4 linked regions of the Homo sapiens genome follow. The protein of the gene in region 2 interacts with the protein of the main gene of each other region in a biochemical or structural test. Each region holds a gene or a part of one and is shown on either strand. Other genes may lie near its edges.

What was found.
Region 1: the proteins of GPRASP1 (region 2) and CALCR form a complex in vitro, tested with the Homo sapiens proteins (one study listed by BioGRID and IntAct).
Region 3: the proteins of GPRASP1 (region 2) and OPRM1 form a complex in vitro, tested with the Homo sapiens proteins (one study listed by BioGRID and IntAct).
Region 4: the proteins of GPRASP1 (region 2) and HTR7 form a complex in vitro, tested with the Homo sapiens proteins (one study listed by BioGRID and IntAct).

The regions. Positions count from the first base shown.
Region 1 is NC_000007.14:93,423,913-93,429,024, forward strand, and holds the end of CALCR (calcitonin receptor isoform 2 precursor), read right to left. Parts: intron 2,678-5,112; coding exon 2,444-2,677; 3' UTR 574-2,443; downstream 1-573. UniProt on the Homo sapiens protein: G protein-coupled receptor activated by ligand peptides amylin (IAPP), calcitonin (CT/CALCA) and calcitonin gene-related peptide type 1 (CGRP1/CALCA).
Region 2 is NC_000023.11:102,657,033-102,661,195, reverse strand, and holds the end of GPRASP1 (G-protein coupled receptor-associated sorting protein 1), read right to left. Parts: coding exon 3,095-4,163; 3' UTR 2,113-3,094; downstream 1-2,112. UniProt on the Homo sapiens protein: Modulates lysosomal sorting and functional down-regulation of a variety of G-protein coupled receptors. Targets receptors for degradation in lysosomes via its interaction with BECN2.
Region 3 is NC_000006.12:154,083,440-154,088,551, reverse strand, and holds part of OPRM1 (mu-type opioid receptor), read right to left. Parts: exon of another isoform or gene 4,841-5,112; intron 2,046-4,840; exon of another isoform or gene 748-2,045; intron 1-747. UniProt on the Homo sapiens protein: Receptor for endogenous opioids such as beta-endorphin and endomorphin. Receptor for natural and synthetic opioids including morphine, heroin, DAMGO, fentanyl, etorphine, buprenorphin and methadone.
Region 4 is NC_000010.11:90,742,228-90,747,339, reverse strand, and holds part of HTR7 (5-hydroxytryptamine receptor 7), read left to right. Parts: intron 1-3,649; coding exon 3,650-3,747; intron 3,748-4,811; coding exon 4,812-4,858; 3' UTR 4,859-5,112. UniProt on the Homo sapiens protein: G-protein coupled receptor for 5-hydroxytryptamine (serotonin), a biogenic hormone that functions as a neurotransmitter, a hormone and a mitogen.

The DNA.
Region 1 (5,112 bases), on a different chromosome or scaffold from region 2:
TGCGCCTCTTCCCCTTTTTAGTCCATCAGAGTTCTCATTTAATCCTCATTTTTTCCATTTCATGCTTTCCAGATCTGAAAATCCTTCCAATGGTGGGCTTTATGCATTCTAATGATAGTTAATTGGTTGCCTTTCGTCTAGCCTTAGTCTCTCTTCCAAACTATATTAAAAGCCAATGATTGATTGTAACAATTCTAAGGATCTGATGTGATATTGGACAGATCAAGTCTGGTCCCAGAATAATGAATAAAAAAACAAGAACAATAAAAGGATATAATACTTTCTTACACTTGATTTCTTTGCTGTGCTTCCTAAACCTATGCAATATTGATTGACACTGGTGTGTGGTTTTGTGTTATCAAGGGCATGAGAACAGTGTCACTGAATTTACAATCAAATTGAGACTAAAGATGTTTGTACTAATAAAGATAATAACCTTGATATTTTTGTGTATGGTTTCTAACCTATGCTTTTAGATTATCTTTCCCACTCCTACAGTACAAATGAGATGGGATGGTAGCAGCCCATGGCTGAAATCAAAAACAGCATGGAATGAGCAGGAGACGAGATGAATGAATGAAAAGATGAATAATATATTTCTTTAGAAAAATATGCAAATATACATCTTTTTGCTTTTAACGTACTCTGTATTAATTTATACATATACACAAGCATAAGCATTTCACATAATTTGGGCAGAACTATGTGCAATTCTATAATAAGCTATTTTGTTTTCTTCAACCCCTACTATATTAGCATAATAACATCTAAAATATTTTAGCAATATATTATCACATTTGTACCACAGCTGCCAGAAATACTCTGTTTTCCATGTTTGTAAACAAAAATAGAACAATACTACATAACACTGTGATTGGAAAAATACCTTCTTTTCGATCCCCCCCTTACATTCAGTAAAGGAGACTTAAACTACTTTAGTATCCCAAATTCATTTTCTCTGTAGAAATATAATTAATTTTCTCTGGGTGCGCTAAATATGTAACCATAACAAATCAATTTATTATCTTTCCACAACTAAATCACTTCTGAAAGGCAGTGGCAAAATATGACATAGATGAGACTGGAGATTTGGAGGGTTTCAATGTACCTCCTCATTTAGCATACAAATTAAATAATGGTAACTCTGATTACTGTTGCAAATTCACAAATTAATTTCAGGTGCCAGTAACGATACTGGTTTATTCAGGATTTTCAAAAATCTTATACTGGGAAGTAAAGAGAGATATGATAATATAATACTGGATTTTAATGAGAAACGTTAAACATGAATTGATTTATGGTTAAATTTGGAGCAGTTAATTTTTTCCCCTCCTGTTTTGGTAATAACAAGAAACAAGCGGTCAACCACAAGTTGATTTCTAATTAGCCCTCCTGGATCTTCCTGGAAAAGCCTGAGCTCTTTTTAAGCTTTGAAGCTGGGTGGAAAGCAGTTAATGGACTTATGTGGAGTCTTTTAATTACCAATATTCAACAAATTTATCTTTTACTGCTAGATAGCACCCAAGGGCAAGAGGTAATCTGCTTTATAAACCTTGGAGTAATTTGCTTTATAAATCCTGGAGTTTAGGGGAGTGGCAAACTCTCTTTAAAGGGAGTATTGTCTTCCACTAAGAATTATATTTTTGGCAGTTTTGTAAAAATTTTTAGTGATAGATTCTTTGTGACCTCTCAGTTTATAAACATCAGCAACCAAAATACATTCAACATTAAGACCAATTCTTTACAACAGCTAGGTCCTGCCCAATGGACAGGCTTGTCCAAAACCAAGCTGAGCATGTAATGTTTTCAGCAAATTGACTCTAAATTTCTTTTGCATTCAAAGCATACATCTTCCTGCCAAATGCAGGTCTTTTTCTTCACATATTTACTAATCTCTCTATTAGAAAGCCGCTTTGTCTTGCAGAGGTCACGTAGTTCATGTGGTTTACATTGTAAGGATGGTAAAACATCTCAGTAACATCAGAATTGACTGAAATTTAAAAAAATTAAAAATCAGATCCATAGCCAAATACAGAAATAATCTAATTCAAAATCCAGAGTTAAAAATAAAAATATTGACAGTGATTTTAATATTTCAAAGGTATAAATGGCTCAGTATTGACAAGGAGCACCCTGTATCTGAACTAGGTCAATTTCATTGTTTTTCTTTGATACTTTGCTTGCATTACTGTGACATTTGCATCTCAGTCCTGGATGAATGATGGAGTTCACAAGTTGCAGTGGGAGACTCCATTCCTAGACTGTCTCCCAAAGCAACAGTACCAAGAATAACTTTCTTCAGATTTACAATGGACAAATTCACTGAATAATTCTTCACAAATGATATGTTCGGTTCCTGGGAGGATGGAGAATACTTTAAATGCATGGTCTTTCTCCCAGGAAATGATGGCTCAGTGATCACGATGCTGTGTTTGCTTCACATTCAAGCAGATGACTCTTGCTCTATGATATTCAAAGGGATGATCTCAGCACTCTCCTCGCCTTGGTTGTTGGCTGGTTCATTCCTCAGCTCCTGATGGCAGATGTAAATTGGGATGTCGCCAGCCTCCGCAGCAGCGGCTGCAGCGCGAGCAGAGCGGTTGGAGGGGCGCCTCCCCCAACGCTGGTTCCACTGAATTTTGAATTGGGCCCATTGGCGCTTCACGGTGGTTTGGACCTGGAAGAGAAAAAGGAGCCTTGTTTTTATATGATAGTCAGAAATGATCCATGCAAAGTGTACGAACATCGTTCTTAGAGCTTATCAGATTTAAAGAAAGTTAAATTGTAATTCTGATCTAAAGGGCTGGGCTGTGTATGCTGTGGCCACAGAATATATCAACTTGGAAGAAGAATTTGCAAATGGAAGAACTGAGTTACTTGCTTAAATTACCCCTGGCAAGGTTGTTTGCTAGTTTTAAGAAAAGGTTTCTTTAGCTTTCATATCCAATGAATAAAAGTTGATTTGGTTTCACAGGTAATGTGGTATACATGTCATAATAGGGAGAAAGGTTGACCAAACTTTTTATATGCTACCATCCCTGATAAGGCAGAAGTTTTTAATTTAAGTGTGCACATGAAAAATATATATGTAAACCATAGCACAGTTCTGGATTTTATGATAATGGCCTCGTACAGTGAACTTTTCCTTGTCCGACATGACTTGAGATGGGTTATGCCAGATACATCTCTGGTTAATGCCATGACAACTTTTTAAGAATAAGATTTTCTCTTTCTTTTGAAAGACTTCTAAAATGTAAACAAACTTGCCAGACTTGTTTTATAAATACGATAAATTATATATTGAAAACAAGAGGCAAAGATGCTAACATCAGAAAGCTCTAAATATGAAAACTACAATAACCACAACTGAAAACAGTACCACAGACAGTGAATTTGCTTGTCTAGCTCTGCTTTTTATAGAAACGAATTCAATTTAGTAGTTAAGTTCCTCCTTCCTGTTGTCTCCAAACTTCTTGCTTTTCTCTATAGCTGAACAAAACTAAAAAAGAGATTATTGCAATAATCTCTATTCTGTATTTCTGAGTTTCTATTGCTCAGTACATACAACAAGCTTACATAAAAATATTTGCATCAATTTATGATACATCCTTAGTTCATTCTGCTGCCAAACTCACATATGACAGCTAAACACATGAGAGAGAACCTGGGGAATATATAATGTGAACTAAATCATGTAACTACTTGATCATGGGGAATCATTTTATCTACTTTACATTTGTACAAATCTGAGAGATGAGAAAAATGACAGCAAAACTGATTAATGTTATAAAACTATATGTATAATATAAGGCTGAATGGTTCTGTGGCAAATATACTTTTTTTTTCCTGTATCTAGTAGAGTAATAATCTCCTCTGAGAATAATTAGTATTGTTCATATATTTTTAAAGATTTTACTCAGAGAAAGACAAAGTCAAATGATTCCTCAAAAAGCAACTAAAGGGGGTAGTTTATCTTCACACAGCACAGCAACCGTAAGGTTCGAGGTGACAAATGGCAATCAGAATTATTTAGCAATCTGATAATTTGGAATATTAGACTTTTCAGATTATGGAGGCAACACATCCTGAGTTTTGTTTTATTTTGTTTTGGGGTTAATGAGTGCTTGCATGAAGGGTACTTTATATCTAAAGTGATTTAAAACGGACAAAGACAAAAACTTTAAGTGCTAAGGAATAAGGTGGACCATGCAGCTGAAAGTTGTATTGAAAAAAGCCACGCAAGAACAAAAGATAGAATAACAAGTTTCAGCTGTTTATTGAGTGTTTACTAAGTACCGTATCATAAGTATGTGATTTGTATTAACTTATTTAATCCTCACAACAGCCCTATGGGAAGGGCACTACTATCTTCACTTTATGGATGGGGCACTGAGGTTATGCAATGTGTCCAAAATCATATAGCTAGAATGTGGCAAAGCCACAGTACCAAGCAGAGCCTGGCTTTATTTGGGTGGTACTATTACCGTAGCTTTAAATGCCAGGGTTATAATCTAGGAACCATCAAATGCCCCATTGAGAAACTGGGAAATATACAGGTTCAGCACATTTTTGGAGAAGCAATGTCTCCAGTCAAAGGAAGCTGATAGGCCGGTCGTGGTGGCTCATGCCTGTAATCCCAGCACTTTGGGAGGCCGAGGCGGGCAGATCATGAGATCAGGAGATCGAGACCATCCTGGCTAACACGGTGAAACCCTGTCTCTACTAAAAATACTAAGAATTAGCCGGCGCCTGTAGTCCCAGCTACTCAGGAGGCTGAGGCAGGAGAATGGCATGAACCTGGGAGGCGGAGCTTGCAGTGAGCCGAGATCATGCCACTGCACTCCAGTTTGGGGAACAGAGCGAGACTCCGTCTCAAAAAAAAAAAAAAAAAAAGGAAGCTGATAATTTCCACGGATTCAGCATCTCTTAAATACCAAGATTATCCTTGTAGCTGAAACTTACACAGATATTTACAAGTATCCAAGCAGGCAGTTATGAGTTTAGAGTTAGTTTGCAAAAGTATGCAGCATGAAAAAGAGGTCTTTTATTTCTCACCTGTCCTTTTAAAATAACTCCCATAGAGTATCCATTTATATTAATAAAGTACACAGC
Region 2 (4,163 bases):
GTACCCAGTGGATGCATGGGGCAGGGGGAAAGGAGAATACTCAATGTGAAAGAGGAGAAGGACTTACCATGGGGCTGCTACCTGGAATGGGACCAAAGAAACACGTCCTAAGGAATGAGCAGAGATCACAACACAAGAGAGCAAAGGGTATGCAGAGGGGAACCTATGAGACTATCCATGAAGCAGTTTCTGTAGGTGGTCCCCAGACCCTCCTCTAAGGCCCAAGACAGCAGGGAGAGAGAGCATCACATGGAGCAGCAACCCACTTTGTGTCCCTCAATGGGAATGAGATCCTGCTGCATGGGGCTGAGATCCAGGAATCCCCTTGGGGGTCGAGAAGCTTGGAGTATCCTAATGAGAAATCCTAAGTGAAGGGCCCACAGCATCTAGGTTTCCTCCCCTCGAGTCTATGTCTCCTCCTTCTTTTCCTAGAACTGCCTGGATTGAGGTTCATTCCTCTCTTGCATCCCCAGCCAGCTGGAGCCTTGGAGCAAAAGGCAGATGTATGTGTTCTCTTCTGCCCTCCTCCACCCTCCGCCAGTTTTGAGCTGGTATCAGCCATCCCCACTGCCTGAATACTGCCAGTAAACAGACAGACAGAGAGCAGAGTGAGTGCCTACTTGGTGGGAGGAAGACAGCAGTAGCATAGTCCATGGTTCCCATCCCCACCCTTACCTTTCCTGATCCAGCACCACACGTGTTCACGAATTGTCACTTCACCATTTCCCCTCTCTGGGCTCCCCTGAAGCCAACTCCATCCATATGCCCACCTCTCCCACCCACACATAGAAACACAGGGCGCTGGGTTGGGACCCCTGGGATGTTCAAAAGGCAGGAGGCAGCCCGGGGATCCGAGGCACTACCTGTACCCGCATCTAGTCTCAGTCACCGCCTCTCAGGGATGGCATCTGCCGTCCTTGCACCCACCTCCTCCAATAGCAACAGCTGCTTCTCTTCACGAACGCCTAGGGCAGGTAGAGTCTCTGCTTCTTGAGCTCCTGGACAAAAGACAGACCGTCTAAGACCGCTAGCGGTTGGCTGAGGGATAGTTTCCTCTACCAAGAAATGCTGTAATTCCGGTCGCCTGAGAAATTAGTTTTCAGGCTGATGAAGCATGGAGAGACACCTACCCACCTTAATATTCCGCCGTTCCCCCCACCTCCCGCTCTGCGGAGCACAGTTGTCGTCTGCCTTTCCTGTACTTTCTGGGTGTAAGAAAACACTCCTCTAGGCCGGCTCAACCCAGAGCCTGGTCACATGACCCACCGTCAGCCCCTCCCCCCTCCACGTGACTGCGCAGTCAGCTAGTTTGCCACAGCCCTGCATGACAGTCAGAAGACAGCCTCCGGGGTGCTTGCTAGAAGACCCTCAAGCTCCTGGCCCAGACAGCTGGAAGGAAGGCCGGGCTTTGCTCTGGAGGACCACTGGGCTGGCGAGGAACATTCGATGAGGATTGGGGAGATGAAGTGATTTGTGATATTTTGTATACGACTAGAGCGACATACTAAAACACACGCAAGATCTGTCTTGAAAAATGCTGGTAAGCAAAACAAACATTCAAACTCCAATTTGCACCACCAGGATGATCCCTGTTAAAATTTTTGATTTGTGAAGGGAGGCAAAACTGCCACTTTGCCCTGCTTTCGTAAACCTTAGCAAACTAACATCATATTGGAATTTAATTTATATCATTTATAATGAACCAGAAATAGGAAGTAATGAGAAATAAGATCAGGTGGGAAAAAGCCTTTGCATCCTGAGGCAAACCAAATGTAAAAGGGTCACTGTATCTATTTTTTTTTCCTGAGAAAATAAAACTTTGCATATTTCCTGTTATCCTGGACTCTCTCCCCAAACCGACTTTATCCCTGTCTCTTGCTACTGTCTGAACATATATGTTCCAACCTTTTTAAATGTAAAAATACATGTGGGATGAACTCAGGAACTTTGGTAATTTTACAGTTTGGTCCTTTAAATAATTTTTAATTTTTCATTTTTAATTGACAAGCCAGTTCTTCTGAAATTGTAGTCTCTCTTACCTCTTCATTCCTTTGATACATTTTATATCATTGTAGAATTTTCTATTATTAAATAATATACACTTCACATGAGTTTGGTCAATTTATTCACATTTATTTTTCAAATGGGATCATACTTCCCATGTATGACACCAGTGTTCTCTATTATATGAAATATCAAAAATGTCAGGGCTTTTCCTAAAACCCTATACATCATCATGTTTAATGGCTGTATGATGTTGCCTTAACACTTACCATGGTACCATCATGATTAAATTGTCTTCCTGACTCAATCAAATCCCTATGCTTTCCTGTCTTATTCTTTTGCCCTTTAGGTAGTATGGAAGCAGCAGTTGTACTTTGAGCTGTAAAATGCAAATCCTCAGCTCTTTAAAACTTATGTCATCCTCTATGTTGCTCAATATATTCCTCTCACTCACTCTAGGCAAACAGGATACCTCACTCCCATAGGAAAATTTTTCCTAACTCCATGCTTTTTTTTTTTTTTACACCACCAATATCTTTCCCAAACTTCAGAGTCCAACCGAAGTAGCTACTTTTTCTCTGAAGTATGCCCTACATAGCAGCCCCTGGTAATTTTTGCGTTTAAAGCTGAGAAAAAAACTTTTGAAAGGAACATATTATTCATATATTAATTATCTCTATGTGTGTTCATGTGTTATCATTGGGTCTGTATTTTAATTTCAAGAAGAAGGGTGATTTCTGCCAACTTTAACATAGGACTTTATTGAAACACAAACAACACTCAAATATATATATATATACAGTAGAACGACAATCAGAAGGGTGGCTTATTTATGATTGCTCAGTTCACTATAAGCTCAAATACTGAACATCACAATGTGGACAAGACAAATATCAACAAATGTGTTTTCAGCTCTAATATTCAGCTGGCATCAGAAAAATGCTCCAGCTTACAGACAGAGTTGGACAAAGTTAGTGTCAGCACTAAAGATATATGTTGCAACACAGAACCAACTATTAAAATCAAAGCATTACTCAAGGATCATAACTCAGGAACATAAGGACAATCTGAGGCCAGCAATTAACCATTACTAATTTTCTTGGTCCCCTTCAGGGTCATTTTGATTGTCTGTTTTGCCTTGCAGTTCCTTAGCAAATTTCTCAACTTTGTGGAATGCAGAAATAAGCGGCTCAATATTGAAATCATCATCAGAGAACACTGTTTCTTTTTTGATATTGTTGCCAATATTCTCAAATATTGCAAGAACAATTTGAATATTGTCATTTGTCTCTTCCCTGTTAAAGAGGCCTATAAATTCTGACACTGCTTCAGCACTGAGTAGTTCTTTTGTCATGAAAAGATTTTCAGACAAATTCAGTAGCATTTTCAAAACATGAAACCTTGTTTTGGCATTGCCTGTAGCTAATAAGGAGAGAAACCCAGACATATAATTGGCAACCAGTGTGTGATAGTCAGTAGTAGTAGTGAGATGTCTAATCATCCTTATTCCAGACAGCTGTTCCGGGGAATCCACGCTATAAGCAAGGGTTTCCTCACACACTTTACATATGTATGTCTGAATTATGTTTAGATTCGGATAAGGTGGGGCCATGCGAATCATATTTTCCAAAAAACTTGTTCTAACTCGGGAGGACGGATAATTAAGCAAGGTTTCAATAAGTGAGACAACACCTGAATCTCGAATGAAATCTCGGGTAAATTGAGAAGCACTTCTCATACCCATTGCGATTTTAGATATTTCATGAATAAAAGGATCCCGAATTTTTTCCATTAATAAAAGGAGTTCTTCAAACTCTTCAGAACCAATTTTCAGCTCACATTGTATGCAGTTACAGGATGAACTCTCAGGCTCTGTACTCTCCTTGGCCCTAAGATGCTCTCGAATTTCCTGGACTGACCTGTAGGAAGGATCATACTGAAATGGGAACTCAGGACTAGGCTGATCAGGCTGAAGCAAAGATTCCTGATCTTCCCCTTCTGGGCTAAGTACCATGTTCCTGGGTTTGCCCCCAAACATTTCACAGAATAAAGATGCTGCCTCTTTCGGAAATCTAAAGGGGCTTATAGATGGGAAGCCGACCCTACCCCATGGACCAGGCTTGAACTGAACAGTGACCTCCTCCCAACTCTGAGGCCTG
Region 3 (5,112 bases), on a different chromosome or scaffold from region 2:
AATAAATACACCTATTTAAAAACCCATAAGTGTTTTGATGCTACAATGGCAAAGTTCAATAATTGCAACAGAGATCAGATGACATGCAAAGCCTAAGTTATTTACTATCTTGCACTTTACAGAAAAAAATGTCAACCTCTGATGAAGATAATGACATCAATTGCTCCCAAAAGTGTCTTTGTGTAGCTCTTTAATCTTTCCTGTTTGCCCCTCCCTGTCCTCATATCCAACCCTCACTATTCCTCAGGCAATTGCTGATCTTGGTTTGCTTTCTGTTCTTATAGATTAGTTTGCATTTCCTAGAAGATGCAAATAGAATCATTCAGTATGTACTCTTTTTTTGTGCTGCTTCTTTCACTCAGTGTCATTATTTTGAGATTCATCTATGTGGTTGCATATAACAAGAATTAATTCCTTGTTATTGACAAGTAGTATTACTTATGCATTCATCTGTTTTTTTTTTTAATCCATTCACCTATTAATGGGAACTGAGTTGCATACAACTTTTGGATGTTACAAATGAACTGTTACGAACATTCATGTGCAAGTCTTTATATAAACATATGCTTTTCTTCCTCCTGGGTAAGTATCTAGGAGTGTTATATGTTTTCAAGGCCTGCAGAAATTAGAAATATGATAGTAGAATATAAGCAGGTACACTTGCAATAATACATTATATCTGATGGCAGAAGTATACCTTGTAAACATTGGACATCATTTTTTTTTTAACATTCCACATATATTTACCTTAATTTAGTAATAGTACCTCAGTTTCACTCTGGGAACCACTCATTTCCCGTTCTCAGTCCAGGTGCTTTGGGATAGGCTGTATTACCAGTCCAGGGCGTGAAGACGTTTAGTGACCGGGGCCATGGTGAATGGCAAGGATGCTCTCATGTTCCAACCAGAGCCAGTGAGAGTTTATTTTGAGACTTATGGACAAAGAGTGTATTAGTTTTCCTGCAGGACCCACACCTGAGAAGACGCATGGTATGTAGTTGCTGGAGGAGCTTGTCTGAAAATGGACCTAATCCGGAGGATGTGGATTTGAGAGCGTGAGAGAGAACCCCACACCTGAAGCCAGGCCCTCCTTGGGCTTCTGATTTACACGGTGCCATCAATTCCTTTTAAATGTTAGCTTGTGTTTACTGTTTTTCCGTCACACGAGGTTGAGTCTAACTCATTCAGCCCAAGACAGCTGTTGGTTGGAGGCCCTTTGTTTAGGACTGAATTCAGTGTCCAGGAAAGTGTTTTGGTTTCAATAACATCAGGAAAGTGATTTCATAAATCTCCTCAGGGTCAATAGGACAGCTTTGTTACTGAAGCTTTAAAATTCTGATACCTGATCTGGTCTGCAATACTTGCAGAAGCTGCATTACTGCCAGAAAAGCTCCACATTTTCAGACTTGGGGGCTTTTTTTTGGACTTACTTTGGGAGTTTCACTTTCTTAATGGATTTTAAAGAAAAAGATAGAGCCATTTAACTTGAGGAGAGAAAATAATTTGCTTTTAGTTTGGACTTTAAATATGGCAAATATAAAAAGGATAATGTAGACAAATACTCCAAAGTACAAAAACCAACAAAAAAGCAAAATTAAAACTGTGGTTTTAAGATTTAGAATAATTGACCTTGGTGCTCAAGAAGTTGAAACATTTTTTATTTTTTTAATAAGAAGAAGTTTCTCCCCAAAAGAGAAAATAACTTTTGCTAGATTCACCGTTGGTTATAGACCTGCATGATCTAAAGACATGCTTCATTGCATTTGCCACTTTCCTACCCAGCAGACCTTACATTTCGTGGCTTATCTTTAATGGTGTTTTATGTTAAGTAATTGGTTTCTTTACAGTCAGTTTTCTGACTCATCATACTTCCAACCTTTCCTTCAGGCTTATTTTAGCACTAAGTATTTCCAATGTATGTTTATTTTAATTAAAAAAAATCATTTCCTTCTCCAGAGTGAGGTGTTTGTGGAAAAAAAAATTATGTCAGGGTTCAACATGGTGAAAGGAAACGTGGTTATGCATAGTTAATTAGCATGCTAGCCATTCCACAATGTGTATACATTTCAAAACATCATGTTGTATATGGTAAATATACATAATTTTATCATCAATTTACCAAAAAAAAGTGAATATTTATCTATAAAAATTCTTTCAACGGGCATTTTATAGGAATGATGCTGTTTAATTTTTCTCAATTTATTTAAAAAGTCTTCCTCTAAAGATAGCCAGCATTCTTACCCCAGTTACTCATGCTTTGGATCACAGCAACATATAAAAGGGGGCTCAACGATCTTCTAAATATGTGAAAGAAAATTATACAAAGCTAAAGGATTAAGAATTCCAATTGCCTCCAGCATATACCCAAAGGCTTTAATCTGAAGAGATGGTCTAATCAGAAAAGGAGTAATGTGGGCTGGGCCTGGTGGCTCAAGCCTATAATCCCAGCACTTTGGGAGGCTGAGGTGAATGGATCACTTGAGGGCAGGGGAAGGAGACCAGCCTGGTCAACCCTGTCTCTACTAAAATTAGAAAAATTAGCTGGGGGTGGTGGCAGGCACCTGCAATCCCAGCTACTTGGGAGGCTGAGGCAGGAGAATCGTACCACTGCATTCCAGCCTGAGCAACAGAGAGAGACACTGTCTCAAAAAAAAAAAAAAAAAGGGCAAGCTTTCATTCTGTTCTGATGTGGTGGCATGAATGTTGTCCCAGCAAAGTTCAATGAATGCTCAGAGTCACATCATGGGCCTTGCACAGGAGCATAGGACTCAGAGTTAGCAAACTAGCAAAAGAAATGACCTGCAGGAAGAATTATCTTTGCCATTCAGTTTACCTGAGTGGGTCCGAGTAGAACTCCTGGCTATTAAAACACAAGCCTTTTTCCTTACTCCATGCCTACTGCTTTGTACTGTGCTGTGAATGTGTTCTGTGGCAAAATGGGCAAAGAGAGACTCATCTGGACTCACAGGCCATCCTGATATTGACCCTTCCTATGGTAGCCACTGAACTCCATCTTCTGCTCGAAGCAGTGGCCCAAGCTATTTCTTTCTAATTATCCCATTAAAATTTTTGTAGTAGGTATTTCTTTAACTTTGGTCTAGATGATTAAATAGCTCTTTTGTTTTATGAATTCAAATGAATTTACAATGCTATTCGTTTTTGAAAAAAATTGTGTTCTTCTGAGAACCATCGATGTTTGACCCATTAGAGTGATTTTTATGGAACTTCCAGAAGTGTTGGGGAAAAGGCATTGTGAGGCCCATTTGCTGGCAGCTCACCTATTCTTTTATGTTGCATATATGACTTTTGTTTATAGATGTTCTTCCTTTCTTATGGTTATAAAATAATTCTTATTTATCTTTTGACCTATTCTTCACACATTTCTCCAACTATTACTACTTACAAAATGTGATTGCTTTTGACCTATTTGTGTTAAGTGAAGCCAGACTAAATAAATTACCTCTGTACACCTGATGGGTTTTGTAAACTTCTGTTTAGTTTTGTGGTTAATTATTTGAATTGTGGTGATCGTGTCTCAGTTCAGAAATAAAACTGATCAAGAGAGTGAGAGGAGGAAGGACACATTTTAGAATCCAGCATGTGTGTGTGTGTGTGTGTGTGTGTGTGTGTGTGTTTAATTCCACATCATGGCCTTCATATTGCTCAACTACCTTTTTCATAAGTTCACAATAGAGTCAATGGTGATGGACGGAAGAGTTTCATCTCTTTTGGGGCTAATTTTTCTGCCTTTTCATTTTTTTTACCAAGTAGTGTGAAGAAAGATACCTAATTCAGTAAGAATTCAACAAGCCCCTTTTATATGTTCAGCAATGTGCTTGGAAAGATATATTTCTTGCATTTGCCATGACTTTTATGTCCACTTACCCTCACATAGAAATTAACCTTTTTAGTCGAGAAAAAAATCCTCCCTAGAGTGTCATACTTTAATACTCATATTTAATTGGATCAATCCAATGAGATAAAGATACTTTCCTACATTTCAAGTAATTATTTAGGCAAAGAATATGGTCAAATGAGTATCTACCTGAGTTAATTGATCCATTATTATCCATCTATTCCATTCTGATATCCCAGGTGCGTTTTTACTTGTGAGTGTGTGTGTGTGTGTCTGTCTGTCTGTTGGGGGGGGAGGTTCTAAAATAAGAAAAAGCATAATCAAAACTAGTGATTATCCTCTCATTGGCATTAACATGGAGAAAGACTATATATTAGGTTGCTATTTTGTATTATATTCTCCACTAGCTTAGTGAAGGGGAGAATGGAGGACTTCTCACTTTGCTATAAAATGTTGTGAAACATTTAATTTACATTTATTTCAAGGTGACGTTATGTAGTTAATGACATTTCTAATAAGCTACTATCAGCAAAGGAAAAGAGTGGTGATAGCAGACCTCTGAATCCTGCGACGGGAAAGGAACTATTGCTTGCTAGTTTACCTCAAAAAGAGAAGACGGGGAGAGGCCTGTATGAAATTAAGCAAAGAGGCATTTCCATCCAGAGGGCAAGTGGCCGTTTCCATTCCTGTGTGTCACCAGAGTGGGATGAATATCAGTCTTCTTCCTTTTTTTTTTTTTTTTTTTTTTTTTTGAGACGGAGTCTCCCTTTGTCGCCCAGGCTGGAGTGCAGTGGCGCGATCTCGGCTCACTGCAAGCTCCGCCTCCCGGGTTCACGCCATTCTCCTGCCTCAGCCTTCCGAGTAGCTGGGACTACAGGCGTCCGCCACCAAGCCCGGCTAATTTTTTGTATTTTTAGTAGAGACGGGGTTTCACCGTGTCGTAGCCAGGATGGTCTCGATCTCCTGACCTCGTGATCCACCCACCTTGGCCTCCCAAAGTGCCAGGATTACAGGCGTGAGCCATCGCACCCGGCTGACTATCAGTCTTCTTGGTAGCATGTCACCCTTTCTCTCCACATCCTCTCGCTCTTTTGTCCTCTCCCAATCTTCTCTGCTTTCTTCTTCCTTCGGGTCCCCCGATGACAAACCATGAGTATCTTTCAGACAGAGCAAGGGGAAGTTGCTTTCTCAGAACCATGATGAACTTTGTATATAGAAAATATAAAATGAATAACTAATTGTATTTTTATTTTTGC
Region 4 (5,112 bases), on a different chromosome or scaffold from region 2:
ACTGACCATTAGGATTTTGAATTCCTTCAGAGAAGGAACAATGTCTTAATCAGATTTCTTTCTGCAGAATCTAGTACAGTGCTTGACACATAATAGATGATAAATAAAAGTAATAACTGCTAACCATTATTGAACACCCGCTACATGCTATGCAGCATGCTACCTGCAAAATAGGTGCTTCTAGCATCCCCACTTTTCAGAAGAACAACTTAAGGCTCAGGAACAAAAGTAACTGACCTATGTTCACACAGTCCCTAAGTGGTAGCTGTGATATGAATCACCCCGATGCTTGTATTGAATGTTATGCAGTTATACTTGTCAAGTGACTTCAGTATATAGGCAGTGAAGAGTCTCAGAATATTTTTGAGCTGGAGACTAGCCATAAGCTCTCTAAGAAGACAATGAGAATGAATTGTTACTCTAAGTAAGTAAAGTTTATTAGACTTACTGCACTACGAGTGGTATCCACTCCTAGACAGTCTTAGTAGTTTCTCAGATGAAGGAAATAAGGCAAGGATATTGATAGGGTTTTGGGGCTTGGGCTGGGTGATTTGAAGGTAGGGAACTGGTGAGGATTAGGCAGAGTTTATGACATAATAGCTTTAGACTGGTAAGTACAGCTAGATGAGGGCTGTGAAGTGAGTGTTAATGAGCAAACTAGTCTTGATAAGTAGGCTATTTTTGTTGGCATATAGTCTTCTGAAAGTGACTATTTCCTAGAACAAATAGCTAGGTTATTTTGCCTGGCTGCAGCATTTTTTAGCACAGGAAAAGGAAAGCGTGTTGGTTTTAGTTCTCAGGAGTAACATGGGAAGGTCTCTCTGGCAATAGTGAGGAGGGCAGACAAGGGAAAGATGGGTGGCAGGGGATCCAGTTAAGCAGCCAGTGTATAAAGTAGGAAAGAACAGATAAAGTCATGAGCAAGGAAACACTGCTATATTTGCATGCATCCATAGGGTCAAAAAACTTGAGAATCATTTTATTGATTATTTTAGTTAATGATTCATAGATAATTCAGATAGATCATAAAATGGTAATCTTTAAAATGTAGCACAAAAAGGTTTTCCAGTTTAAAATAATAACATGCGTTTGCTGAGGATTCACTCTCAGACACTTTGCTGAGCACTTTATGTGAATTTGATCAATTAATCCTCAAAAGTTTATGATAGGTTAGTTTTCTTCATTTCCATTCTGAAAATAACAAAACAAGGGCGTGGAGAAGTCAAATGATTTCCCCCACAGTCATATAGAGAGTGATAGAGCTGGATTTGAGCCCAGGACATCTGTGTTCAAAAGTGCTTTTAACTTCTATGCTACTGTGCCTTTTATAAAAATAAATCAGCTAACATAAAGTCTAAAGATATTTGCCTTTGTATCTTTAGCTAGTCTGGAGGCTTGGGTGTTGTTTTCCTGTAAGCTTAAGACAGAGGTCAGCAAACTTTAACTGTGAAGGGCCAAGTGGTAAATATTTTAAGCTTTGCTAGCCATATGGTCTCTATTGAAACTACTCATCTCACTGATGAGTAATTTGTCACTGACATAAGTAAACAGATAGGCCCGTGTACCAATAAAACTTTATTTACAAAAAGGGGCTGCCAGTTGTATTTGGCCAACAGGCCATAGTCTGCTGTATCTTCTTTGCATTTCTCTCAGTTTGAATTTATAATTACAGAATATCTACTTCATTAAGGACGATTAGCCTAAAAATATCCATCAACTTTAGGAAATTTCTAATATGGCTGCCATGCATTGAGGAAGATACAGAAAACAGATGATATCTTTCATGTCCTTATGCACATAATTTTGTTGGATATACCTTACACAAACAGACATATGTTGCTATGGCCTGAATGTTTGTGTCTCCTGCAAAATTCATATTTTGAAACCAAATTCCCAATGCAATACTATGAAAATGTGGATTCTTTAGGAGGTAATTAGGTCATGGGGGCAGGGCCCTCATGAATGGGATTATTGCCCTTATAAAAGAGGCCTGAGGGAGCTTGTTCATACCTTCTACCATGTAAGGAAGCAGCTAGAAGTTACCATCTATGAAGCAGACAGCGAGCCCTCACCAGACATGGAATCTATTGGTGGCTTAATCTTGGATTTCTCAGCCTCTCAAACTATAAGAAATAAATTTCTGTTGTTTATAAGCTACCAATTTATGGGATTTTGTTATAGCAGCCTGGCTAGGCTAAGACATATGCACATGGCAACCTTTCTGTAATAAGGAAAGGTGGAGACAGGAAAAACTATGGGATTCAAAGGAAAGGAAAATAACTCAGAGCTTACACTAACCCTAATCAGAGAAGACTTCCTGAAGGATATGAACTCAAGCATGTCTATGAAGTTGGTCAAAGCATTTATAGTGAAAGGAGAGCAGAAATGGTATTCTAGGTGAAGAGGACTTTTTTTGTAAAGGCACCAATGTGGGAGCTTATACAAAGGACCATCTGGCTGAAGCTAAGCATTTGGGTGCAGGAACTGTTAGAGATCAAAGCAGAAAAGTAGATTGAGATGAAATTATAAAGGCTCTTCTATGCTAGCTCCAAGAATTTGGACTTTTAATATTGACAAATGGTTCTTAATCAGGAGTAATTTTGCCTCCCATCCCAACTCTCTGTAGCCATTTGGCCATTTCTGGAGGGATTTTTGGTTGTCACAAGTCTGGGTGGCACACTACTGGCATCTACTGGGTAGAGGCCAGGGCTGCTCTTAAGGATTTTACAGTATACAGGCCAGCAACCCCCCGCCCACCCCCCAACAAAGAAGTACCTAATCCTTAATGCTAAATGTGGGACACTCTGTAGTAGTAAGCCATCAGTGAATCTGCAAGTAGGATCAGTGAATCTGCAAGTAGGGGAATGGAGTCATCAAAATGGTCAAGACTGATGCAGTAGCACTGTGTGGATAACTCCAAATGTAGAAAATGGATGTAAGGAGTCTCTTCATTGGCTTGTTTTTCCCAGAAACATTTGAGGGTCTGCTATGTACAAAGCATGGAACCAGGCATGGTAGGGTAGAAAGATGAGTAAGGGACAGTTGAAGTCTCTGGAAGCTTTTAATCTAGTGTGCTGGGGTGGCTGCAGAGGTGGTGGTGGCTAGTAGGAGACTTGTAATCAGAACCCTTTGCTCCCCCTGCCTCTCTCTAGCTCTCACTCATCTTGTGGCCACCGTGCAGATTCTGGACTCCTCCAGACTCAGGGCTTTCTCCAGCTCTTTTCCTCCCATCTAGCTTCTGGGCTTCTAGTCTCTCTTACCTTTTCGCCTTGCTCTGCCTTCTTGGCTCTACGTATTCTCCTACATAATAGTTTCTTTCTTTCCTGTACAAACCTGTAAGACTGTTCCTACTCCCAAATATTTACCCATTTCTCCCCATTTTCTTGATCAGCATAACCAGAACCTCAGGAGTTCATCAGGCACTCGAAAATTTTCCCTGGGGTAATGAAGTGAATAGATGGAGGAAAAGCTGTGAATACTTTTGCACTGGTAATTTTAATTTACTGCTATCAATTTTAATCCTTTTCACAAGTATTCACAGATTGGTAATATAAAACCAAATATGATAATGAAATATAATCAAGGATTCTTTTTTTCTTTTAAAATTTGATTTACTTATGGATTTGCTTTGAATTGCCATAAATTGCAGGAGGGCCTGCACAAGGAGGGTGCTGTTGAGACCAGAAAAGAGGCCACCGGTATCTGTGTGGGTGCTACAATCTCCAGACCATCACAATTGGTTAGCAGGTGGGTAGCAAGGAAAGGGAGACTTTGGAGATAGTGCTGTGGTCTGGAGGAATTCAGAACATGAACTATGTGAGCAGAGCCGTGCTGAGCTGGAGAAAGCACTGTCTCTCCTGTGCTGGGAAGAGACAGTGGCCCTGGGCTAGGAATGTGTCTGTGGAGCACAGATGGTTGCCAGTCCCCTCTTCAGATACGTGGAGCCTAGAGTGCTGAGTCTGGGCTGAAGTGCAGTACTTGTCCTCAGGTGTTATTGTGTGAGGCTGAGGGGAAAAGCTAGAAACCATGTCTCCAGCAAAATCCATCTATTGATCACCCATCTGAAGGGCTGGGCTGAGAGGGGGACCTCAAAGAAGGAAGAGCAGGACTGCAGGCAAGACAGCCAAATGGCAGGGTAGGGGGTGCTTTAGATGGGGTGGGTAGGTGGAGATTAGGGGCACAGTCCCAGTCTCTGGGTCCTCATAGACCTAGCTCTTAGGCACATGATGTAGTGTGGTAAGTTGAGGCCTGTGGAGGTGCAGAGTCAGGGGAGTGGCTTTACACCAGGAGAAAGGGACTTTTTCTCAGCCCTTGGCTGACACTTCTCTATCACTAATGCCACTTCTGAGCATCTAGGAACGAGGGAGAGAAGTGAAGTTTCTTGGTCCCTACACACATACCTTACAATAACACACCTTCCTAGGTTTGAGGGAGAGAGCACGTCTCATTGGTAATCATTATTTAGTCATTATTCTTTTCAAGTGGGGCAGGTGCAATAGTATTTTGCAAGGATTTTTGAGAGCAAAGTCATTTTTTGCTATAGCTGTATTAAAAAGGTGAATTTCTAAATGGGTTATTTGGGGCTGATTTGCAAATATATTAAAGCCTTGGCAACTTGTGGAAGTTATGAAATTTATGAAAAGAGTCACAACACTTTTTCTTTCCCTTGAAGGATACTCATAATCCCTTAAAAGCCACAAATGATTCAAATTACTGACTGCTGTAAAAATTAAGTCCACCTACCACAAAATGAAAACTCACATTTACAGTTCTACTAAATTATTTTCTATTTTTCTCTCTCTTTTTTTTAGACAAAATGCTGACTACTGTAGAAAAAAAGGTCATGATTCATGATTGAAAGCAGAACAATGGAGATGAAATAAACAAGGCAAAATAGAGGTGGAAACAGAAGGAAGTCATTTGCTGAGTCTGCAGAATGGAATGCAGCTTCTGTCCTTTCTTGGGATGTCTAAAACATGACAAACAGGGTGATCTGTTGTACACACTATCTTATGAGGGAGATGGTGACTTCTCCTTTTTTCTGTGGATCAGTGCTATTGTGTGTTCTCAGTTTAAGATAGCAGATCATCTCAGCAGTAAGCACACCAACAG